7 linked regions of the Homo sapiens genome follow. The protein of the gene in region 1 purifies or fractionates together with the protein of each later gene. This does not show direct contact. Each region holds a gene or a part of one and is shown in the gene's direction. Other genes may lie near its edges.

What was found.
Region 2: the proteins of WRAP73 (region 1) and SPEN purify together in Homo sapiens (affinity purification with mass spectrometry; 3 studies listed by BioGRID and IntAct, with this or other methods). This does not show direct contact.
Region 3: the proteins of WRAP73 (region 1) and PRCC purify together in Homo sapiens (affinity purification with mass spectrometry; 3 studies listed by BioGRID and IntAct, with this or other methods). This does not show direct contact.
Region 4: the proteins of WRAP73 (region 1) and ZC3H14 purify together in Homo sapiens (co-immunoprecipitation; 3 studies listed by BioGRID and IntAct, with this or other methods). This does not show direct contact.
Region 5: the proteins of WRAP73 (region 1) and CLEC16A purify together in Homo sapiens (affinity purification with mass spectrometry; 3 studies listed by BioGRID and IntAct, with this or other methods). This does not show direct contact.
Region 6: the proteins of WRAP73 (region 1) and ZBTB44 purify together in Homo sapiens (affinity purification with mass spectrometry; 3 studies listed by BioGRID and IntAct, with this or other methods). This does not show direct contact.
Region 7: the proteins of WRAP73 (region 1) and MTMR3 purify together in Homo sapiens (affinity purification with mass spectrometry; 2 studies listed by BioGRID and IntAct, with this or other methods). This does not show direct contact.

What each region holds. Positions count from the first base shown.
Region 1 is NC_000001.11:3,630,270-3,633,103, reverse strand, and holds the end of WRAP73 (WD repeat-containing protein WRAP73), read left to right. Parts: intron 1-765; coding exon 766-891; intron 892-947; coding exon of another isoform or gene 948-1,081; intron 1,082-1,446; coding exon 1,447-1,638; exon of another isoform or gene 1,639-1,986; coding exon 1,987-2,129; 3' UTR 2,130-2,334; downstream 2,335-2,834.
Region 2 is NC_000001.11:15,854,207-15,857,706, forward strand, and holds part of SPEN (msx2-interacting protein), read left to right. Parts: intron 1-3,500. UniProt on the Homo sapiens protein: May serve as a nuclear matrix platform that organizes and integrates transcriptional responses. In osteoblasts, supports transcription activation: synergizes with RUNX2 to enhance FGFR2-mediated activation of the osteocalcin FGF-responsive element (OCFRE).
Region 3 is NC_000001.11:156,774,035-156,777,534, forward strand, and holds part of PRCC (proline-rich protein PRCC), read left to right. Parts: intron 1-3,500. UniProt on the Homo sapiens protein: May regulate cell cycle progression through interaction with MAD2L2.
Region 4 is NC_000014.9:88,566,037-88,569,536, forward strand, and holds part of ZC3H14 (zinc finger CCCH domain-containing protein 14), read left to right. Parts: intron 1-1,821; exon of another isoform or gene 1,822-2,002; coding exon 2,003-2,117; intron 2,118-3,500. UniProt on the Homo sapiens protein: RNA-binding protein involved in the biogenesis of circular RNAs (circRNAs), which are produced by back-splicing circularization of pre-mRNAs.
Region 5 is NC_000016.10:11,126,064-11,129,563, forward strand, and holds part of CLEC16A (protein CLEC16A), read left to right. Parts: coding exon 1-83; coding exon of another isoform or gene 84-217; exon of another isoform or gene 218-281; intron 282-3,307; exon of another isoform or gene 3,308-3,435; intron 3,436-3,500. UniProt on the Homo sapiens protein: Regulator of mitophagy through the upstream regulation of the RNF41/NRDP1-PRKN pathway. Mitophagy is a selective form of autophagy necessary for mitochondrial quality control.
Region 6 is NC_000011.10:130,234,918-130,238,417, reverse strand, and holds part of ZBTB44 (zinc finger and BTB domain-containing protein 44), read left to right. Parts: intron 1-1,324; coding exon 1,325-1,625; intron 1,626-2,201; exon of another isoform or gene 2,202-2,308; intron 2,309-3,500. UniProt on the Homo sapiens protein: May be involved in transcriptional regulation.
Region 7 is NC_000022.11:30,015,674-30,019,173, forward strand, and holds part of MTMR3 (phosphatidylinositol-3,5-bisphosphate 3-phosphatase MTMR3), read left to right. Parts: intron 1-854; coding exon 855-1,025; intron 1,026-2,253; coding exon 2,254-2,399; intron 2,400-2,943; exon of another isoform or gene 2,944-3,056; intron 3,057-3,500. UniProt on the Homo sapiens protein: Lipid phosphatase that specifically dephosphorylates the D-3 position of phosphatidylinositol 3-phosphate and phosphatidylinositol 3,5-bisphosphate, generating phosphatidylinositol and phosphatidylinositol 5-phosphate.

The sequences.
Region 1 (2,834 bases):
AAACACTTTTCCGTGGGTGGCGCTCAGAGTGGGTCTGGAACCCGGCGGTGCTCCCGAGCGCTGTCTCCGGCTTGAGGCCCGGTTCTGATGCAGCCTCTTGACTCTGGGCATTTCCTATGTGTCTGTTTCCTCATCGCTGAAATGGGCATAGTAAAAGCACCCATCCCACAGGGGCATGAGGGCATCTGAAGGTTGCAGGTAGAGGAAGCGGTGCCCCAAGTGCCGACGGGCCCACCCCGGGGCTCGGTGTGTGCTCAGGATGGGGGTCAGGACAGGTGCAGCCTGGCACACAGGAGGCGCTCCCCAGGAGCCCAGGGGCGTCCTTGTTCCACAGCCCCTGCTTCTGCTGTGATGATGGTTCTTCCACAGCCGGAAAGTCTAAGGGTACTGACGCTGAGGTGGAAGGGATTGTGAACTCAGATGCTGGTAGTCGACAGAAAAGTGCTGAGGAGTTGGAGCTGCTGAGATTGCAGCTAGGACCTGTCCATGTCCCTCTCCAGTCAGCCCCTGGCACGTGGGGTCCACCCCCCACCTAGTCGGGCCTGGCAGGTGATGGTGCCACTCTCATCCGGGGCACTTGCGGGCAGGCCCCTCGCTGCGGCTGCCAGGCTTTGCTTAGCTCTTCCTGCCCTTGGGCCGCACTTTCCTCCCCTTTGAACAGAGGAGCTGGGTTCGCGATGCCCGATGCAGGCACAGCAGCCTCTCAGCCGCGTGCGTACTTCCCGAAAGGGTGACAATGGCGTGTTCTTCCTGTTGGTGTTCTAGATGAGATCGCCTCTGTCCCAGTCTCCTTACAGACACTGAAACCTGTTACCGACAGAGCAAACCCGAAAATCGGCATAGGAATGCTGGCATTTAGTCCTGACAGCTACTTCCTGGCGACAAGGAACGGTCAGTTGTGCTGACGCAGGTGCTGTCTCACCCTTTACTGTGTCCTGTGGCCCCAGGTGTAGAAGCGACTGGAAAAGAAAATGAAGTTGGGGGTTTCCGACACGTCACCTCCTTTCACGTTTCTGCAGTAGCCGAGGTGCTCACAGAAGCTCCTTGGAGGCGCTGGGCCTTTGTCCTGCAGCAGCCGCAGGTCCGCGCATGAGTCAGGAGGCCTCCACCCTGCTCACTTGCTCCACTCTGCTGAGTAGAAAGCAGGGCTGGGCACACTGCAGCCCGCCTTTTGTTAAGGGTTTCTCCATTTGTAAAGGGCTAAAAAAAAAAAAAAAATACCAAAGAAAGAAACACATTTGGGCCCCTTACAGCCCGTGATGGCCACCCTGGCCCTGGCCAGGAGCCCTACAGGGCCCAACTGAACCCAGACTGCAGGGTGCAGCCGCCCCACCCCACCGGTTCTTCCCCTCCCCTCCTGTGGTGTCAACAGCAGAGCAGAGGGGCAGGGCCAACACAGAGGAGCCAGGCAGGGATGACACCGGTGCCCTGTCCTTCCTTCCTCAGACAACATTCCCAATGCCGTCTGGGTCTGGGACATTCAGAAGCTGAGGCTGTTCGCGGTGCTCGAGCAGCTGTCCCCAGTGCGCGCATTTCAGTGGGACCCGCAGCAGCCGCGGCTGGCCATCTGCACGGGAGGCAGCAGGCTCTACCTGTGGTCCCCAGCGGGCTGCATGTCGGTGCAGGTGCCTGGGGAAGGTAAGCACATCCCCGAGGCCACGGACGTGGCAGCCTTGCTGTGTGCAGTCTGGCATCACACGGGCTGAACTGTTGAAGCCCAGCTGCTGTCTCCGGCAGCACTCCAGGGAAACTGCCCTCAGAGTCTTTGCGTAAACCTCAAGACGGACACACAGGGGACCCGCTGCCCTCAGCTTTATGGGCTAGAAGCAGCCTCTCCCTGACTTGAGGCAGCTCTGGGGCTCCACCCTGGCTCTGCCTATGTGGGTCACTCCAGGCACTGTGCTGGCCTGCAGGACAAGGGGGTGCCCATCCCCCAGAATCTGGGCCTCCCCTGCTGTAATCCTCTGGCCACCTGTCTCTCTCTAGGCGACTTTGCAGTGCTCTCTCTGTGCTGGCATTTAAGCGGAGACTCGATGGCCCTCCTCAGCAAGGATCACTTCTGCCTCTGCTTCCTGGAGACAGAGGCAGTGGTCGGCACAGCCTGCAGACAGCTGGGCGGCCACACGTAGCAGCGGTGCACTAACGTGTGCAGAAACAGGGCTACTCTGTGTTTCCAGTGTGGGAAAAAACACAGCTTCACCAGGAGGTTCTCCACTGTGGTGGTCTGGATTCAGTGATTGATTCTATTTTTCTATAGCAAAGCATTTTTGTAAATATGTATGGTATAAAACTGTAGTTTTATTATTTAAAATAAATACTTGCTGATTTATACAACTACTTCTCTTCTTGAAACGTTTAGTCACAGGCAGGTTTTCTAGGTTCGAGGTTCTGGTCAGTCTTAGGGAAGATGGATAGCCCTACAGTAACTGAGCCCCGGGCCACTAGCTCCCGCCAGACACCCGGCCTGCTCTGGGTTCTCTGTTTGGATGTGTTAGGACAACGAGGGGGCATCTCTGTGGGGCACATCCAGCCTCCCCACAGTGGGTCTGAAGTGTGGGCAGGGAGCCCTGGCACCTGAGAGCAGCGCCACCCCCAGGTCCAGTCCCCTCGGGATGGGAGCTGCAGGTCCCCGACCAGCTGAGTCAGTTCCTCAGGAAGTCTCATGTCTACTCTGGTTTCGGAACCAGTGTGCGTGGGTCTCCACCCTGGCTATTTGCAGGAAGTGCCTAGAACCACCCAGAACCATTCCATCAATCTCTCCAGCTGGTGCTCGGCAGGCAGCCAGACTTGGTTGGCACCACAGGTGGGGGGATCAGGGTTGCAAACCTAGGTTG
Region 2 (3,500 bases), about 12 Mb from region 1:
TATTCATTAAATTGGGCTCCTGAATTGTGTTATTAGATGATTTGAAATAAGTGCTGTTCAGCCCCTTGAAACACATATATTAGCCTGCTGAACAAGGAGACTAAATAAAGTACATTTATCTGTAGTTAAATTAACAATCTTCTTTACTATTTGGTTTAAATTTTTCTTTAAACTTATTATTTTTACTTGCCTTACAGCTACACATATTTTGAATGAAAATAGTGTACTCCTCTGTGGAAACCAATTAGAATGTTAATCATTTTATTAGAAAGCATGTAGTTTTTTTTTGTTTGTTTTTGAGACGGAGTTTCGCTCCTGTTGCCCAGGCTGGAGTGCAATGGTGCTATCTCGGCTCACCGCGACCTCTGCCTCCCAGGTTCAAGCAATTCTGCCTCAGCCTCCCAAGTAGCTGGGATTACAGGCATGCACCACCACACCCAGCTAATTTTGTGTTTTTAGTAGAGACGGGGTTTCTCTGTGTTGAGGCTGGTCTCGAACTCTTAACCTCAGGTGATCTGCCCACCTCGGCCTCCCAAAGTGCTGGGATTATAGGTGTGAGCCACCGCGACCGGCCAAAACCATGTAATTTTTATGTGATATCTAGCTGGTTTTTAGTGTGTGGAAATATGCTTTGCAGTGAGTGAAAAGATTTTTTGGATATAATTTTAAAGTATCTCAATATTCAGATTGTTCTCCCTACATGTATTCCTGTCTGCCAAGTTGAAGATTACAAGCATCTAAAAAAACCATAGTGGAATGGCTCTATAAAATCCTAACTTAAATTTAGTGAATTCTTGGATTTAATTACTTATGATTTCATTTTGAGTATAGAAATGAAATGAACTCTAGCATATTTAAAGATTTGTATTATATAGTTTAAGGAACTGCTCCAATCCTTAGAATTAAGGAAGATTTGTGGGAAAATTCAAATGAGAAACACTATTTCTTATCCTGTGTACCTGGTGCTAGATTTTTAGTCCAGCCTTAAATGCAAGGGTTGCATGTGCCTGTCTTTGTATTAGATGCTGTTTGGGTCACTAGGGAACATTGCCAAATGATATGAAGATTCTTTTAATTATACATTGTATTGACTTTGATTGTTATATTCCCATTATGTTACACATAACGTATGTACTTTTACATATAATACATTTATAGTTTCTTTGATTCTTAAAATTGACTAAAAGTGATTTTTTTTTTACACATCATTTATTTTTCCTTTGATTTAAAAACTGGGGCTTATGTACTCAAAAAACATTTTGCAGTTTACAAAACTATATTTAACATATAGCGATTTGTCTTTTACCAATCAAATTGGTAGGTAGAAGTATTTTGTCTGAACCAGTAATTTTTTTAAATTACACTGTTTGCAGCTGGGTGCGGTGGCTCATGCCTGTAATCCCAGCACTTTGGGAGGCTGAGGCGGGCGGGCGGATCATGAGGTCAGGAGTTTGAGACGAGCCTGGCCAACATGGTGAAACCCTATCTCTACTAAAAATACAAAAAATTAGCCTGGCATGGTGGCAAGCACCTATAATCCCAGCTACTCGGGAGGCTGAGGCAGGAGAATCGCTTGAACCCAGGAGGTGGAGGGTGCAGTGAGCCAAGATCATGCCATTGCACTCCAGCCTGGGTGACAGAGCAAGACTCTGTCTCGAGAAAAAAAAAAAATTATGCTGTTTGCAGTGAAGGCTCATTTGCATTCAAGATTATTTAAAAGTGTCCTTGGATTAAAAGATAAAAGAGTAATTTATTACTTTATTGTGTGAAAAGGATGCTAGAACTTTTTTTTTTTTTTTTTTTTGAGACGGAGTTTCTCTCTCTTGCCCAGGCTGGAGTGCAGTGGTGTGATCTCGGCTCACTGCAAGCTCCACCTCCTGGGTTCACACCATTCTGCGTCAGCCTCCCAAATAGCTGGGATTACAGGCACCTGCCACCACACCCGGCTAATTTTTTTGTATTTTTAGTAGAGACGGGGTTTCACCATGTTAGCCAGCATGGTCTCGATCTCCTGACCTCAGGATCCGCCCGCCTCGGCCTCCCAAAGTGCTGGGATTACAGGTGTGAGCCACCGTGCCCGGCCAGATGTTAGAATCTTTAATGAAGACCTCATCGATCAGAATTCAGGAGGAAGTACTAAACTTGGGTGGGAAAATACCTCTTTATTTTTAGTAACTTCTTACTGGGATCTAATATTTCCTTCAACTATAATATAGAGAAAACTAATAGTAGTTGTGATTTTCGTCACCAATACAAATCATATATATTTTCATATTTTATATTACAGTTTTTGCAAATACTTCATTATTGTCATCACAACTTGGAAATTACAGTGGCTGTTAGATCTGCTGCCAGATACTTTTTTTTTTTTTTTTTTTTGAGACAGAGTCTTGCTGTGTCACCCAGGCTGGAGTGCAATGGCATGATCTCGGCTCACTGCAACCTCTGCCTCCCAGGTTCCAGCAATTCTCCTGCCTCAGTTTCTCGAGTAACTGGAATTACAGGCGCCCACCACCATGCCCAGCTAATTTTTGTGTTTTTAATAGAGACGGGGTTTCACCATGTTGGCTAGGCTGGTCTTGAACTCCTGATCTTAGGTGATCCGCCCACCTCGACTTTACAATGTGCTGGGATTACAGTCATAAGCCACTGCGCCTGGCCTAGATACTTTTATTTGGTGTGTTAGTAAAGAAGCATATATATTACTATATGATCAATTTGTGTTATATATCTTAAAAATTCTATCTCAGGAATTTTGAACATACACAAAAGTGGACACAATAGTCAGTGAATCCCAAGTTCCTCTCGTTCATCTCCAACAACCATCAGTTATGGCCTATCTGCTTTTCTCCTTCCTGTATTTTTTTTTTTCTTGAGACAGGATCTCACTTTGTCACCCATGCTGGAGTGCAGTGGTGTGATCACTGCTTACTGTGTCCCTTCAACCTCCCGGGCTCAAGAGATCCTCCCATCTTAGCTTTCCAAGTAGCTAGGACTACAGGCGCACACCACCATACTCGGCTAATTTTTGTATTTTCTGTAGAGACAAGGTCTCACTCTGTTGCCCAGGCTGGTCTCGAACTCCTGGGCTCAAGTGATCTGTCTGCCTCGGCCTCTCAAAGTGCTGGGATTACAGGTGTGAGCCACTGCACCCAGCCTTTTTTTTTTGAGACGGAGTCTCGTTCTGTTGCCCAGGCTGGAGTGCAGTGGCGTGATCTCAGCTCACTGCAACCTCTGCCTCCCGGGTTCAAGCTATTCTTGTGCTTCAGCCTCCTGAGTAGCTGGGATTACAGGCGTGTGCTACCACGCCCAGCTAGTTTTTGTATTTTTAGTAGAGACAAGGTTTCACCATGTTGGCCAGGCTGGTCTTGAACTCCTGACCTCAAGTGATCTGCCTGCCTCAGCCTCCCAAAGTGCTGGTATTACAGGCGTGAGCCACCGTGCCCGGCCCCTATTTATTTATTTATTTTCATAAAAAAATTGTTTTTTTTCTACCCAGG
Region 3 (3,500 bases), about 150 Mb from region 1:
ATCTAGAAAAGTCAAATTCATAGAGATGGAAAGTGGAATAGCAGTTACCAGGGGCTGGGGGGAGGTGGGGATAAAGAGTTACTGTTTAATGGGTGCGGAGTTTCTTTCTTTTTTTGAGTCACCTTTTTTTTTTTTTTTTTTTTTTTTTTTTTTTTTTTTGAGACAGAGTCTCTCTGTGTTGCCCAGGCTGGAGTGCAGTGGCTCAATCTTGGCTCACTGCAACCTCCGCCTCCCGGGTTCAAGCAATTCTCCTGCCTCAGCCTCCTGAGTAGCTGGGATTAAGGCGCCCGCCACTACACCCAGCTAATTTTTGTATCTTTAGTAGAGACGGGGTTTCACCATATTGGTCAGGCTGGTCTCGAACCCCTGACCTCGTGATCCGCCCGTCTCGGGCTCCCAAAGTGCTGGGATTACAGGCATGAGCCACTGTGCCCAGCCCTTTTTCTTTTCTTTTTTCTTTTTTTTTCAATGAAACAGGGTCTCAGTCTGTTGCCCAGGCTGGAATGTTGTGTCTCGATTATGGCTTACTGCAGCCTCTACCTCCTGGGCTCAAGCAACCCTGCTGCCTCAGTCTCCGCAGTAGCTGGGACTACAGTAATGTGCCACTGTACCTGGCTATGTTTTTAAACAATTTTTTTGCTGGGCATGGTGGCTCACGCCTGTAAACCCCGCACTTTGGGAGGCCGAGGCTGGTGGATCACGAGGTCAATAGTTCAAGACCAGCCTGGCCAAGATGGTGAAACCCCATCTCTACTAAAAATATAAAAATTAGCTGGGCGTGGTGGCGCATACCTGTAATCCCAGCTACTTGGGAAGCTGAGGCAGAGAATTGCTTGAACCCGGAAGGCAGAGGTTGCAGTGAGCCAAGATCGTGCCACTGCCCTCCAGCCTGGGTGACAGAGCAAGACTCTGTCTCAAAAAAAAAAAAAAAAGGCCGGGTGCAGTGGCTCATGCCTGTAATCCCAGCACTTTGGGAGGCTGAGGTGGGCGGATCACGAGGTCAGGAGATCGAGAGCATCCTGGCTAACACGGTGAAACCCCATCTCTACTAAAAATACAAAAAATTAGCCAAGCGTGGTGGCGGGTGCCTGTAGTCCCAGCTACTCGGGAGGCTGAGGCAGGAGAATGGTGTGAACCCGGGAGGTGGAGCTTGCAGTGAGCCGAGATTGCGCCACTGCACTCCAGCCTGGGCTGCAGAGGGAGGCTCCATCTCAAAAAAAAAATTGTTTTTGTGTGGAGATGGGGGTCTTACTATGTTATCTGGGCTGGCCTCAGACCCCTGGGCTCAAGTGATCCTCCTGCCTCATTTTTCTTTCTTTTGTTTTTTTTTTTTGGAGACAGGGTCCTGCTCTGTTGCCCAGCCTGGAGTGTAGTGGCACAATCTTAGCTTACTTCAGCCTTGGCCTCCTTGGCTCAAGCAATCCTCCTACCTCAGCCTTCTGAGTAGCTGGGATTACAGGCACATGGCCGATTTAAAATTTTTTTTTTTTTTTTGAGACAGAGTCTCGCTCTGTCGCCCAGGCTGGAGTGCAGTGGTGCAATCTCAGCTCACTGCAACCGCCGCCTCCCGGGTTCAAGTGATTCTCCTGCCTCAGCCTCCCGAGTAGCTGGGACTACCGGCACCCGCCACCACCCCCGGCTAATTTTTGTATTTTTAGTAGAGATGGGGTTTCACCATATTGGCCAGGCTGGTCTCGAACTCCTGATCTTGTGATCTGCCCACCTCGGCCTCCCAAAGTGCTGGGATCACAGGCGTGAGCCACCGCACCCGGCTAATTTTTAAAATTTTTTGGTAGAGATGAGGTCTCTCTACAGTGCCCAGACTTGTCTCAAAACTCCTGGGCTCAAGCAGTCCTCCCATCTGGGCCTCCCCAAATGCTGGGATTATAGGGGTGAACCACTGTGCCTGGCCATCCCCGCCTTGCCTCATTTTTGAAGTTGTCATTTTAGTGTTCTGTTTCAGGGAGTCTGTCATTTATGGTGTGTCATGAGATGATTCATAATAGGGGTCGGTAGAAGTTTTATATAAGATGTTCGGGCTGGGTGTGCAGTGGCTCATGCCTGCAATCCCAACACTTTGGGAGGCCAAGGCAGGTGGATTGCTTGAGGACAGGAATTTGAGATCAGCCTGCGCAACAGAGTGAGACCCTGCCTTTTATCTCTACAAAAAAATTTTAAAAATAAAATAACTGAGCATGGTGGGCAAGTGCCTGTAGTCCCAGCTACCTGGGAGGCTGAGGCAGGAAGATTGCTTGAGCCCAGGAGTTTGAGGTTACAGTGAGCTGTAATTGCGCCACTCTACTCCAGCCTGGGCACAACAGAGCAAGACCATGTCTCAAGGGAAAAAGATGTTCAAAGAGAAGAATGATTGTGAGTAGCCATAGCAATCCTCTAAATCTAGAAATAATAGACTGTTCCGAAGTCTTTATAGAGGTTTTTTTTTTGTGTGTGTGCTTTTAAACTATAAACTCAGGTTGTCAGTATAATGGAAACAATTTGTGACATTTACAGAGAAATTGAATTTTCTTTCCACAGTGGATCTGGCCTTCAATTCTATTAGCTGTGGAGCAGTTTGCCTATTACAGTCTTACAGTAGCCACTTTTTGTTTTTCAAAGGATCTGAAAAATAAGAATATGCTTGTATAGTTTTATAAATGTAATCATCTTAAATTTGGGTAAAATTTGTTTATTTCAGATTATTGCCATTGGACCTGTTGCCTATGATGTCAAAGTTTAAACGTATTTGGGGAATCCATGAAAACCTTATATACCCCATAGTGAGGTTGTTCTGTGTGGTCTGCCAGAAAGGAGATAAGTCTTCATGGTCAAAAGACGAGAGATGGTGAGGAGTCTGTAAGGAGCAATGAGAGTTAGTTTAGAACAGAAAGAAAAGGTAGAAAATGCTTAGGTGCCAGGTGCTTAAGTCTTTTCTTGGGTGAGTTTGATATCTTGGCAAACCAGAGAAAATAATAATTTTTGAACTTTGTTTAGAATTTTAGTTTGTATCATTTTCACTGGCAGTAGCTCCTGTGGTTGTGACATGGGTAAGTACTATTTGCACCTTAGGCTTGGGGAAGTTAAATAGCGGGATCCCTTAGCCAGTGAGGGGCAGAGCTGAGACTCAAACCAGTGCTTCTGATTTTGTGCTTCATGCTCTCTCAGCTGTGTCGTGTGGGATCTAGTGAGTGTGAATCTCAGACCTGGACAGCAGACAGCTCAGTTTGGTGTTCCCGCAAAAGCACGGGCACTGGAACTGGTTCTGATCCTGGTTCTGCCCCATCCTATTTTATCTCTCTGAGCCTTACTTTCTTCACCATAAAGTTGAGATAATAATAATGCCTACTTTGAAGTGTTATTATAAGAATTAAATGAAAAATGAGTAAATTGCCTGATACATAGGAAGCACTTGGTGGATGGTTGTCCTTTCCTTTGCCACCCTTTTCCTTTATCCCCCACATTTAGATACTAAGATGGATTTCCCTTACGGGTTAAAAAAAAAA
Region 4 (3,500 bases), on another chromosome or scaffold:
CCCCGGCTAATTTTTGTGTTTTTAGTGGAGACGGTGTTTCACCATGTTGGCCAGGCTGATCTCGAACTCCTGACCTTAGGTGATCCACTTGTCTCAGCCTCCCAGAGTGCTGGGATTACAGGTGTGAGCCACTGTGCCTTGCCTAAATTTTTTTTTGGAAAATTTAATAATGTTACTTGTGTTAATATAATTGGATTTGTGATTAACATGTGATGGATTTATTTTTTAATGAATTAATAAATACTTTTTAATTAAAAATGATCAGTTCTAATTTTGAACACCATAAATAATAGAACCTGCATAAACCAAAGAAGGGGCCCAAGACCAAACAGTTTGAGAATTGGTAATTTATGGAGTACTTACCACCATTTGCTGGGCACTTTCATAAACGATTTGTTGTCAGGATTGTTGGAAGACTAACAGATGAGAGAATTGAGGCTCAGAGAAAATAAAGCTGAACCAAGATTTATTTATTCTTTTATTCTTTCAACACTTGAACTGCATTTTTTATAGTTTTCTTTGAAACAAAAAAAGTACTTCTGAAATGAACCTTTCTGCCTGCATAGAAATATTACAAGTATTTAAGGTATTAAAGAAATTTGTCACAGCATGGTGGTTCACGCCTGTAATCACAGCACTTTGGGAGGCCGAGGTGGGTGGATCACTTGAGGTCAGGAGTTCGAGACCAGCCTAGTCAACATGCTGAAACCTGGTGTCTACTAAAAATACAAACATTAGCTGGGTGTGGTGGCAGGTGCCTGTAATCCCAGCTACTCGGGAGGCTGAGGCAGGAGAATCGCTTGAACCCAGGAAGCAGAGCTTGCAGTGAGCCGAGATTGTGCCACTACACTCCAACCTGGGAGACAGAGCAAGACTCTGTCGTAAAAGAAAAAAAAAAAAAAGAGAACTGGAATGGAGTTTTGAGGGTCAGAGATTAGAGTTCCTGATAACAGCTTTTGCTTCCTTATCTTCTTAGTGAGGTTTTTGTTTTTTTGTTCTTTTAAATCCTAGACCTCACTCTCATAATCACTGTAGGATTACCACTAGGAGGGTGTTTTTTGGCTTCTTTTATTTATTTTATTTATTTATTTTTTTTTGAGACAGAGTCTTGCTCTGTTGCCCAGGCTGGAGTGCAGTGGCAGGATCTGAGCGCACTGCAAGCTCCGCCTCCTGGGTTCACACCATTCTCCTGCCTCGGCCTCCCGAGTAGCTGAGACTATAGGCGCTCACCACCACACCCGGCTAATTTTTTGTATTTTTAGTAGAGACAGGGTTTCACTGTGTTAGCCAGGATGGTCTCAATCTCCTAACCTTGTGATCTGCCCACCTTGGCCTCCCAAAGTGCTGGGATTACAGGCATGAGCCACCGCGCCTGGCCTTTTTTCTTTTTTTTTTTTTTTTATCCTAGACCTCACCCTTATAATCATTGTAGGATTACCACTGTGAGGGTAAAACCGTGCATTGAGTTGACATTATTTAATGTTAAAATTGATTTTTTTAAATGATGTGGAGCTTTTGGGTCTATTTGTTTATTCGATGTTGCTACAAGTTTGTTACTGTGAGTAATTGAAACCTGCCTTTAGCAAGGGTAAAGATGTTCACTTGAGAAATGAGTGTTATTTTGAAACTTTGCAAATTAAAACTAAACAAAACTCAATTCTTTTTCTTGGGGAATGTTCAAATATTTCCCATAAGCTTCTTTGAAATTAATAAGCATTATTAAAAAGATTCAAGGAAGTGAATGCATGCTCAAGTTTGACCCTATAATTCAGAATGTTTAGTTTTGTAAGTATCAATTATTCTTAATTTCCATTCTTCTAGTATTTGAAATACCTGTGGAATGAAGAGAAAAAAATTAAAGCTAAGCCATCTTGTCCAATGTAATTCCAGTAGAGCTCTGCGACTCTAAAGCTTAGAGCTACATCTATATTTTCAAGCACATCAACTTTAAGAAGAAAGTTTTGAGGAAACAAAGTTTTGATCTACCTTTCCTTTTAAATAGATGAAGAACTTCCTGATTACATTATGGTGATGGTGGCCAACAAGAAAAGTCAGGACCAAATGACAGAGGATCTGTCCCTGTTTCTAGGGAACAACACAATTCGATTCACCGTATGGTATGTTTCTGAATTTTTGTGCCTCAGACCAAAGTTTGGCACAAGCCTGAGTTGATATTCTGTCCAAAGAGAGGTTCTTGACACTTGAGTTAGGTTTACTTTGGAGAGGCAGTTTGTGAGTGATGAGAGCACAGCCTCTGTATTAGTCCATTTTCACAGTGCTATGAAGAAATACCCGAGACTGGGTAATTTCTAAAAGAAAGAGGTTTAATTGACTCAGAGTTCCACATGGCTGGGGAGGCCCCAGGAAGGGGAAGCAAGCACCTTCTTCACAAGTCGACAGGAAAGAGAAGAGTGAAGGAGGAACTTCCAGAGACTTATATAAAATCATCAGATCTTGTGAGAACTCACTGTCTCTTGAGAACTCGGGAACTCACTGTCTCTTGAGAACTCACTATCATGAGAACATCATGGGGGAAACCACCCCCATGACCCAGTCACCTCCCTCCCTTGACAGGTGGGGATTACAATTCAATATAAGATTTGGGTGGGGACACAGAGCCAAACCTTATCAGCCTCTGAAGCCAGACAGCCAAAGTTGAATCCTGGCTGTGTCTTGCCTTGGTTTCTCTAGCTATAAAATGGAAATAGTACAGCCACTTGCTTTATAAAATTATTATTGAGGATCAAATGGGCTAATATGTGTAAAGTACTTATAGGTGTCCCTAGCATTTTCCTAAGGAATTCTTAGTATATGTCGGCTATACTTAATATGTTTCTTTTGTAAACTTCTATATCTTTTTTTTTGAGACAGGGTCTTGCTCTGTCACCAGGCTGGAGCACAGTGGTACAATCATGGCTCGCTGCAGCCTCGATCTCCTGGTTTCAAGTGATCATCCCATTGCAGTCCCCTCCTTCCTGAACTCCCATGCCTGACTAATTTTTAAATTTTTTGTTCAGACAGGGTCTTAGTATGTTGCCCTGGATGCTCTTGAACTCCTGGGCTCAAGCAGTCCTCCTGCCTTGGCCTTCAGAAGTCTTGGGGTTATAGGTATGAGCCACTGCACCTGGCCAGCTTCTGTATCTTATAGTTCCTTTTCCCCCACCAAAACCAGTTACAGATGTTTTTTTGAACTGGGTTGGCTTCTTACATTGCCTTTTACAATGAGTTACCTTTAGAGGGCAAGGTTTTCTGTTTCTCACTTTTCTGTTTCTTACTTTTTAAGCTTTTTGTTAAACTCACACCTTCATTTTGAGTAATAATTGTAGTGTAATGTTACAGCATATTTTGAGATTATAAGTTTTTTTAAGTTTGGAATTTTAAAATAGGCAACTTTGCTTTTATACATAAATTACTGTTATATGCCTTTAGTTGAGAATACTGACTAGAAGAGTAAGATTCAACTTAAGATGCTAGGTCCTGGTACCAGGTTTGAGGTAAAG
Region 5 (3,500 bases), on another chromosome or scaffold:
CCGCTTCTACGACCAGGGGCGCCGGGGCAGCAGCGACCCCACAGTGCAGCGCTCCGTGTTTGCATCGGTGGACAAGGTGCCAGGTGAGCCAGCCCCCCGCCCTGCGCCACAGCTCGTTCATCATGGTGGGCGTTCAAGGTCTTTCTCTCTGTGGAGCCTGTGTGAGCTGCCCTTCCTCTCTCAGAAGCCCCGTCGGCTGGCAGCACCAGCTTCTTAGAATTTGTCAAAGCACAGCGCAAGATTAAACACAGCCCCCAAAATAAATTTTGGCTTTCCCTTTAGTGTTTGGTTTGGTTTTCCAGAGATTTGTTGGGTATGTGGAAGAACTTCTCAGAATTGACTAAGAATTTTCTTGGAAATTTCTTGGAAACATTTAAATGATTAGTGCTGAAGTTGTGGGAGAGTAATTTCCTTCTCCATGTAAGATGACTAGAAAGAGAGAGTGTGTTTGGTTCCGGTTACAACCCCCTGAAGAAGTGAGACTTCAAAAGAAGGCCGTGCTGCCCACAGGTCAGCTGTCCACTCCTTCCATATGAGGGCGTCTCCTCCCACTTTTGCCACAGCTCATCTCTAACCCTGCTCCTCCGCTCCTCCCAAAACAGAAACTTGAATGGAAAGTCCATTGCTGATTTGTCAGAGTGGAAAGGACCACTTCTCCAGAAGACCGAGTTCTCCCCTTCCTGTTCTGACATGTCTGCTTTAAGTAAATCCGTATGCACCCCGATCCCTCGAAAGAGAGCCTTTCTTTTGGTTGCAAAAGTTTAGAGCGCTGGCCAAGCTCTCCCTCACAACTTAACCCCTCCCCATATAGGGCTTCAAACTTAAGTTGCAAGTGTTGTGAAATGTTTTCAAAAGCAGTTATTGATTTAAGAACAAAACGCAGCCATAGGAACCTGCTCAAAACCCGAGTCCTGGTTCCCCCATGTGATTTATTTTAGTTTCATTGTTTGATAATTCATTATTTATATGTATATACCGTAGGCATATGATTTTTTAAAATCCAGACAGGAGATGATCAAATGAAAAATAAGTCTACTTTGCTTCAGAAGTAACTATTGTTAACAGTTTCTTGCCTGTCTTTCCAGAAATATTTCTTTGTATGTCATGCATATGTTTGTTTTTTACACATGGGGTATACCGTATGTCTGATGCTGCACCTTGCTACTTCTTCCTTAATAGAAAGTGTCACACATTAACACGTATAAATCAACCTAATTCTCCTTAACTGTTACATGGTATTTTGTCATATGGATGGGCAAAAAAATCTTTTTTGCTGTTTCGTATTTGGGTCATTTCCAGTGTTTTGCTCTTACAGTGTCACAGTGAGCATCCTTAGGGTGTCTTTGTGTAATTGTGCAAATTTCTCATGTCTGTGTGATAAATTCCTAGCAGTGAATTTGCCAAAGGGGAAGGTTTTTAATCTTGATATATGTAGTCCCAACGTGAACTCTAGAAAACAGTACACCAATTCACTCTGCCACCCACAGCTTGTGATTGGTTTCTTTCTTAAATCCAGTCTCAGGGCTGGGCATGGCGGCTCATGCCAGTAATCCTAGCACTTTGGGAGGCTAAGACAAGGCGGATTGCTTGAGCCCAGGAGTTTGAGACCAGCCTGGGCAACACAGTGAGACATCGTGTCTAGTATAAATAAAAAATTAGCCAGGCATGGTGGTGGGCACCTGTGGTCTCAGCTACACTCAGGAGGCTGAGGTGGGAGGGTCACTTGAGCCCAGGAGGTTGACGCTGCAGTGAGCTATGATTGTACCATTGCCCTCCAGCCTGGGCAACAGAGTGAGACCCTGTCTCAAAAAGAAAAGAAAAAAATAATCTTAGGCTGAGAGACTGATTGTGGCACCGCCTGTTTTCAGTGATGAAATGTGAGATGATTCTGCCTGTTTCAGGGTCAGGAGGATTCTTTGCTTAAAAAATTCTGCAGGTTGCTTCGTGTTCTGTGGCTATGATTGCTAAGTAAATATAAAGTGTGACTGAGTCTAAGTTAACTAAGTACAAATTGACCTGGTAAGAAATGACTTCTTTAGGGTCATTGAGGCGTCTTTCAGTTTCGGAACTTACTGGTTAAAGAGAAAAGCCCAGGCCTTATTTCTGTTCTGAGCCCTTTTGGAACAAGGTAGAATGTAAATAAATACATGGAGCCAAGCGGCCCATTCTTCAGCATCTACATGATCATTTCTCTGTTTGCAGAATGCTTTAGGATGACTTATTGCTTACCTCTTCTACCCTGCCTGGCCTTCCACCGGTGGGTGAGAACATCAAATGCCAGGAGTGTGGCCCGGCTCCAGAACCTGGGCCTGCCTGCCGGGGTGGTTGGCACAGCTGGGATGCCCCATGTCCTGTTGCTGGTCCCAGGGTCAGCAAGTGTGAGGCTGTGCCAACTGGGACAACAGCAAGTCAGAGGTGGCTGCTGAAGGCAGCATCCACCCCTTGGCTGTGTCTCCCCTGACTGCCCCTGGAAGTGCCACTCAGCTATGAGGAGTGAGATGGAGACATTCTTATTTATCACACCACCCCCGCAAAGAGGGAGGCCTCGCTGCCCTCCCACCTTGGCTTGGCACCAGAGCTGTGTCCTGAAGAGCAAGTTGAAATCCCTGAGCCTTGGCATGGTGGGAGCATAGGCTGCCCCCACCCCCATCTCAGTAGTCAGGGTCCCCCACAGCAGCAGCCACTCAGCACTTTGGAATCATTCTTAAAACTTTTCACCCTGCTTCCACACCCACCAGCCTGCTTGGCCTCCAGAAAATACTGAGATCCGAGATCTCCTCTCCCAGATCTCCCAAGATTGCAACAGAAGCCTTCTCAGGATCCCTAGCTTCCATTCAGCCAGTGGGATCATTCTAGTACTTAAATCAGATTACGTCATACCCCTGCCTCCAGCTTTTTGGTAGTTTCCTGTTGCACTTAGAACAAAATCCACATCTCTCCTTCTGATCTTGGGTGGTGGCTGTGAGATCCGGCCCCAACTGGCCTCTCAGATGAAGTTCCCCCAACCCCAAGCTCACTCTAGCCCCAACCCCAGCCTTGCCAGCCCCTGCTGCTCCTCTAAGCTAGCATTTCTCAGAGTTTTAGCCTCAGCACCCACGTGTTTATCTGCTTAAAAAGTATTACAGAACTTAAAGAGCTTTCATTTAGATAGATTATATTTATAGATATTTATGACATTAGAAATTAAAACTAAGAAATGCTTTCAATATATACTTCTTGAATAAACCCATTGCATATATGCATAACTAACATAGTTTTCTATGAACAATAACTCTGTTTTCCAAAACATAGAAAAAAATTGATCTTGCACATTTCTGCAAGTCTCTTTAATGCCTGGCTTAATAGAAGACATCTGGATTCTCCTCTTTGCTTCTGTTTTCTGTCTGTTGTGATAGCATGCATTCTGTGGCCTCTGGAAAACTCCTCAGTACACCCCTGGGAATATGAACATAAAAGAAAAATGTCTTACTATTTTTATGAAAACAAGGATTTCCAGACCA
Region 6 (3,500 bases), on another chromosome or scaffold:
TAAGTGAACGCTCTAAAACATTTTATTTTGCAGTCCCAGTTAAAATAGAAAACAGGGGCTTCTGAGTTTTAAAAAAAACTCTGGGAAGTCAAATGAAAACAGATTAGCTAAGGTTTATTGCTGAAATGATGCAGTGTCAGAAAGCTGCTTGCCACGGGTGTTGAGTATTCTGATTAAAAGAACATAAGGTGATATGGAGTGAGTACTTTGTAAATAAAAAGACATATTAGGTGTGCACATAGAGGTGAGATAGAGAATCACAAACACAGATGGTAAAGCAAATAGGGTTAAAAGGGTCTGTATGGGTGTTCTTTGTGCTGTTCTTCTTATAATGTCTCTTTAAGTTTGAAATTTTTCCCAAATAAAAGTGTGTTTAAAAATGTAATATTTTCTTGCTAATTTACTTTCAATTCTACAGTCCTAAATCTCTGTGTGCCCTGATGAGTCAGCTTTGTAGTTTGTATTTTTTTAAACATAACAGAGATTTTGGATAAATGTATAGAGGGGATTTGAAATTTTAGTTCAGTAATCACATGAAGGCAACAGGATTCTTGTGGGTAAAACACTGACCTCTGACGAGTAAGAGATCTTTGCTGCTGTTTTCAGCTGCGTGAGTTACTATCTCACTTTCCCCTTCTGTAGATAGGTCTTACAGTCCCTGTCCTAGCACCAATTCTCTGTGACTTTGTTCAATCCGTAGACTGTGTTTTGAAAGGTTTTAAAATTTTTTCCCCAAAACACTGTGATAATGAATTTGAGGAGACTATTAATACACTTTATAACTCATTTATTTCTATCAATATTACATCATATTACCCAAAAAAACCCATTATATCAAATGATGGTTCTGTCATGCTCATTACATTCAGAGATGTTAAAATTGTTCTTTCTTCTCGTTTCTCTGTGAGATAGGGAACAGAGAGTAGGTACTGATGATTTTCATATCCGTTCAATGTAAACCTCTAATGAAATGAAATAATATGTGCTGTTAGTGGGGATTTGGGTTCTGTCTACATACTGTAGTTAAATTGTGTTTTGAAGTTAGTAAAATAGATGATCTAGAAAAGCATTCAAAAATCAGCTTCAGTAGACGTTACCTAGTTTGCCTCCCCTACTGCCTTTTTTTCTTTTCCTTTTTAAGCACTTGTGACTTTTCACATATTCTGCACATTTTCTGAGATACTCAATTAGAATATGTTTTTGCTGGTAATTCTTGCCTTTTCAGATGATCTGTTGCTACAGAAATATAGTTCAGAAATTTGTAGGGTTTATGACTTTTCAGTTTATTTTTGTTTTTAGATATTTTGTTTTGCTTTATTTACAGGAATTAAACCATTTCAGTGTGACCGCTGTGGGAAAAAGTTCACCAGGGCTTACTCGCTAAAGATGCATCGCCTAAAGCATGAAGGTAAACGCTGTTTCCGGTGCCAGATATGTAGTGCCACTTTCACTTCCTTCGGGGAATATAAACACCACATGAGGGTTTCCCGGCACATTATCCGCAAGCCTCGGATTTACGAGTGCAAAACATGTGGCGCCATGTTCACCAACTCTGGAAATTTAATCGTGCACCTGAGGAGTCTGAACCATGAAGCATCAGAGCTAGCAAACTACTTCCAGAGCAGGTGAGGTGCACAACGAAAACCCAACCAGGAAAACTGCTTTCTAAACTCTCTTTTCCTGCTTTTAGGGCAGCCTTCTGTGTTTTTACATCAGGTTGCCAGCTAGTCAGTCACATTTGTTACGGATTCCCACTGTTCATACTCTAATCTCCTGATCTGATAAAATTTTGCTGAGTCTTCTACGTATATAAAATTATAAACATTTTATAGTTGGTATTAAAAATATTTTCCTGCAGAAGTAGACTACTTGTCCTCTTGAGATATTTTTTAAATAATACAAGGTTTAAGTAATTCTGTAATGGACCTTAAATAGATCTTACTGGAAATTTTACCATGTCAGATGATGCTTAGTGATACTGGATTACTCCAGACTCTAGATGTTAATAAAATTCTTTACCACTTCTCTCTATTTAAAAATATTCTATATAAAGGAATAGCCATTGGCCAGTAAGAAAAATTTCAAAGGCAACTATAGTGGGTGTGATGGTTTAGATCATGAAGTCATTGCTATTTTCATTCAGTTTAGAGCTCTATTCTTGTAATATTAATTTATAATAGAATTACCTTTCTGATTTATAGGGCATCCCAGGAAATCAGCTTCTAGATCTAGCTCTGCCACTAACTGCTGTTGATTAAACCTGTCACTTTACACATGAAAAAGCTTGAAACTTAGAGAAAGATAAAATGTAAGCTTTAAACGATGGTTTCTAAGGCCTTCTCTAGATATAAAACTGTTGTTTTAAATTGTTTATAAGAATTGTACTTCTGTAGGAATCCTTAGTTTCTCATAAAATGAAATTTTTACAAATCTTTCTTTTTTTTTTTTTTGAGATGGAGTCTCACTGTCACCCAGGCTGGAATGCAGTGGCACGATTTCGGCTTACTGCAACCTCAGCCTCCTGAGTAGCTGGGATTACAGGTGCCCACCACTACACCCAGCTAATATTTGTATTTTTAGTAGAGATGGGGTTTCACCATGTTGGCCAGTCTGATCTCGAACCCCTGACCTCAAGTGATCCGCCTGCTTCAGCCTCCCAAAGTGCTGTGGGATTACAGGCGTGAGCCACCATGCCCAGCCCAAATCTTTACATTTTAAATCACCCTTATTTTTAAAACCTTTTTTTTTTTTAATTGAATAGATAGGGTCTTGCAGTGTTGCCCAGGCTGAAGTGCAGTGGCTGTTCATAGACACAATCATAGTGCACTGCAGCCTCGAACTCCTGAGGTCAAGCAGTTCTCCTGCTGGGGCTACAAGTGTGGGCACCACCCCTGACTTAAAACCTTATTTGTAAACAAATTCCAAATTATTCCTGCGTAGATTTTGTTTTTCCCTTCAAACCAGACATTCATTTTGTTTAATGCAGTCATCTCTAATTCTGAATGTGTGGTTGCCATATCACTAAACCTTAGGTTATACATATCATATTAAACATAGTTTGTTCAGGACTAAAATAGTGTTCCTGTTAACTACTCATGTTATCTTTATCGTCCCTGTACAGAGCCCTGTATTCTCCATTCTTCTTCTCTAACACCTGAATGAAGACTTTTTAGAAAATATAACATAGGGCATTCTAAATTACTTTGCAGATGAACAGATTTTAATTTTTTATTAATACTGAACAATGAAATTATAAAATAACCTTATCAAGTCTAAGTACATATATTATTGACAATTATGGTATAATGAAGTTCTTAGTTCAGTAATAAAGATTTAAATAAAGCCTCTAAGATAAGACTTATTTCACATACTTAGTTTCAATTACCAAAAGATGCTTATAAGTAGGAAATTTAGGAAATACAGAAAAGTATGAAGAAGAAATTTAAAATATTTTCTATTTCATCACTTAAGGAAAGTAGCCACTGTTTTTAGTATATTTT
Region 7 (3,500 bases), on another chromosome or scaffold:
TAAAACACAAGGCAGGCTGTGTCATTCCTTGGCTTAAAAACCTCTAGTTACATTTTACACAAAAGCCAAAGTTCTTAAAATGGTCTCCAGGGCCTTCCTAGAGGTTACCTCTCTAGGTTCATTTCCTACCATTCTCCCTCTTCTGCAATCTCCTTTAGTCACACTGGCCTCCTTGCTGTAGCTCAGAAATTGCAAGCATGTGCTTTACCTCAAAGCCATTGCACCTGTGGTTGCCTCTGCCTGGAGTGCTTCCCCTCAGATACCCACATGCCTGCTCTTTCAAGTCCACTGGGTCCCAGCCAGTGAGGCCATCCTGCACTGCCTCATATGTGTCCTGTCCATCTCAGTCTGCCTTGTTCTCCATAGCACTGGTCACTCTTCAGCTATGACTAGAGCAAGCTCCATCAGGGCAGAAGAATTTGCTGGTCATTGCTACATGCCCAGCACCTTAGTCATGTTTGGGCCATGTGAAATGCTCAATAATTTGTAGAATGAACAAGTAGTTTTACAAACATACTGTCAGCTCAGACTTGAGTTGTACACTGACGTGCTCCTGCACCCAGTTCATATGCTGTGGCGCTTGTGAGAGTGGCTGTTAATTCACAATCTCAGACTATTTATCACGGAAGCTAAGAGGAATAGGGGCACCAACAACCTGTCTGACTCAGGTTGTTGGGTCCTGGAATTGGTGGTGTGAGGAGGAGGAGGCTACTGCATGGCTTACTGGGTTCCCCGTCCTGACAGAGTAAATTGAAGTGTTCTCAGGGATGTTAGGATAAGGTGGCTCAGCTGAGCTGACTTATCAGAGTGTGCATGCCTGATTGCTTAATTTGTGCTTCATTGGACTTCCATAGGTGAAACTGGTGCAGCATACCTATTCCTGCCTGTTTGGAACATTCCTGTGCAACAACGCCAAGGAGAGAGGGGAAAAGCATACTCAGGAACGGACATGTTCCGTGTGGTCACTTCTTCGGGCAGGCAACAAGGCTTTCAAAAACCTACTGTATTCCTCTCAGTCAGAAGCCGTATGTATCCTTCAGCCTTTCCACTGTGGTCAGCAGAAGGAATTTGGGGTTGGTTACATATGAGAGCCTTTTTGAGTAGTGACTGTTTTTGTGAAGACATCTCTACTGTCTCTGGATGGACTGGTTCCATTTTTCCCCCATGATTCTGTCCTGAGGAAGGCCTGCTTCTGATGGTGCTCTGATCTGTTTCTGATGACTACTTGCTGAGGGTGGTTTGGTTTAACACAGATCTCTACTTTGCCACCCTAGACATGAATCTTTTTTGGCACTGCCTCCAGAGCTTATTTCTAGCATATTCTGTCTTACGGGAGAGGCACTTAAGTTGCTTCCTGATGCACTGATAGCTCAGAATGAGCTGCCACCAGGCCCCCAGCACCCTCCCAGTGTCAATAAGCAATGATACCCACCAAAGCTTCTGTCTCAGAACAGTAAACTGTGTTTGACATTGGTATGTGTGTCTGTCTGATTCTCTGCTCACATGAAGAGCTGGCAGGCCCTTTAAGACTTTGTTCCCCGAAGGAATGAATACCTTCTGTTAAGCAGAGAAAAGGAGGCACATAGACCTATGTGTCAGTTTCATAGTAATACTAGCTTTGTCAGAATGCATCTTAGACCCTAAAGAAGTCAAAAGGAGGCTAATCAGAGTTCATACTGATTTCCTGGACTATTAATATGGTTCTCATTACATTTAAGTAATCACAGAAAAGATTTAAGCTGACTGCTTGTCTCTCCCCTTCAGTGTGCCTTCTGGGGAAGTAACAATACAGCAGGAAAATTTCCTTCTTTTCACATGATTAATTTAAATGATCCCATAAAATGGGTTTGACAGTGTTTCTTGAAGCCAAGCTTTTGTGCCAGCAGGATGGACAATCACCATCTAACAGAATGACTCACTTTCTTAGGCAGTAAAAGCAACAAATCAAGCTGATGAAAGTCAGACATTGAAGGTGACCTAAGAAATAACTATAATGAGAAAGGGATCTAAAAAATATTTTATATTTTCATGCTCTCAAGTGGCTCTTAGGTGAAAAATGTTGGCTATATAAAATGTCTAGTCCTGTATTGGTCCTCTTGGGATAGACCTGTATCCATTGGTGCTGCTTCTTTGTGGAGATCCTGTCAGCCCTGTTGGGTATTCCAGCTGGGTGCTTGCTCTTGATCCTCATTTCCAGACATCCTAGAAGACTTATTGGGGCATATTTAAACCTGTGTCCTCCCCCCTCCTCAGGTGCTGTACCCTGTGTGCCATGTGCGTAACCTGATGCTGTGGAGTGCAGTGTACCTGCCCTGCCCATCCCCAACCACCCCTGTGGACGACAGCTGTGCACCATACCCAGCCCCAGGCACCAGCCCTGATGATCCCCCCCTGAGCCGGTGAGCCCAGGGTGATGCCACAGGCCTGACAGCCTGTGTGGGTGTATTCCTGTGTTGGGACGTGTGCAGGGATGGTCAGAGATCATGATGGTATCTGGCTCCACAGTATCTTTCTTAGGTCTCTGCAGTTTTTTCAGGGAAGTTATAGGGATTTCTGAGCTACGAGGCTGTAAGATCCTTGTTTCTGGGAGTGAGTTAGGCCCTGTTGCTTCATGTTGTTTTGCATACACTGAGCCGCTCCTCAGTGATAGAGCAAATCCTCCAGTTTTTCTGTGACCCCCTGGTTTGTGTTTTCCCCAGTGCTCTGTGCTCCTGCCTATTTGCCATGATTTGTCTTCTGAGGCTTAAAAGGCAGATGCTGTCAGATGACAGAAAATTTTGCTTTGGGGCCAGGCTTGGTGGCTCATGCCTGTAATCCCAGCACTTTGGGAGGCCAAGGTGGGAGGATCGCTTGAGCCCAGGAGTTCCAGACCAGCCTGGGCAATGTGTTGAAACTCTGTTTCTACCCAAAATGCAAAAACTAACCAAGCGTGGTGGCACATACCTGTAGTCCCAGCTACTTGGGAGGTTGAGGCAGGAGGATCACTTGAGCCTGGAAGGTGGAGGTTGCAGTGATCCAAGATCCATTGCACTCCAGCCTGGATGACAGGGCAAGACCTGTCTCAGGAAAAAAAAAAAAGAAAAGAAAATTTGGCTTTGTCACTTGAGAATTAGCTTTATTAAATTCAGACTGATAGATAATACATTAATTTAAAATACTGTAATATCAAGAAACACCAGTGCTACTTTGCCATCCACTGAGAAACACAGCAGCATCATGAAGAACGTCTTTTGGAAATAGCATTTGCAGGCCGGGCGCGGTGGCTGACGCCTGTAATCCCAGCACTTTGGGAGGCCAAGGTGGGCGGATCACCTGAGGTCAGGAGTTCAAGACCAGCCTGAACAAAATGGTGAAACACCCATCTCTACTAAAAATACAAAAAAACTAGCCGGGCGTGGTGGCACACACCTATAATCCCAGCTACTCAGGAGGCTGAGGCAGGATCGCTTGAACCTGGGAGGCGGAGGTTGCAGTGAGCTGAGATCCGCCACTGCACTCCA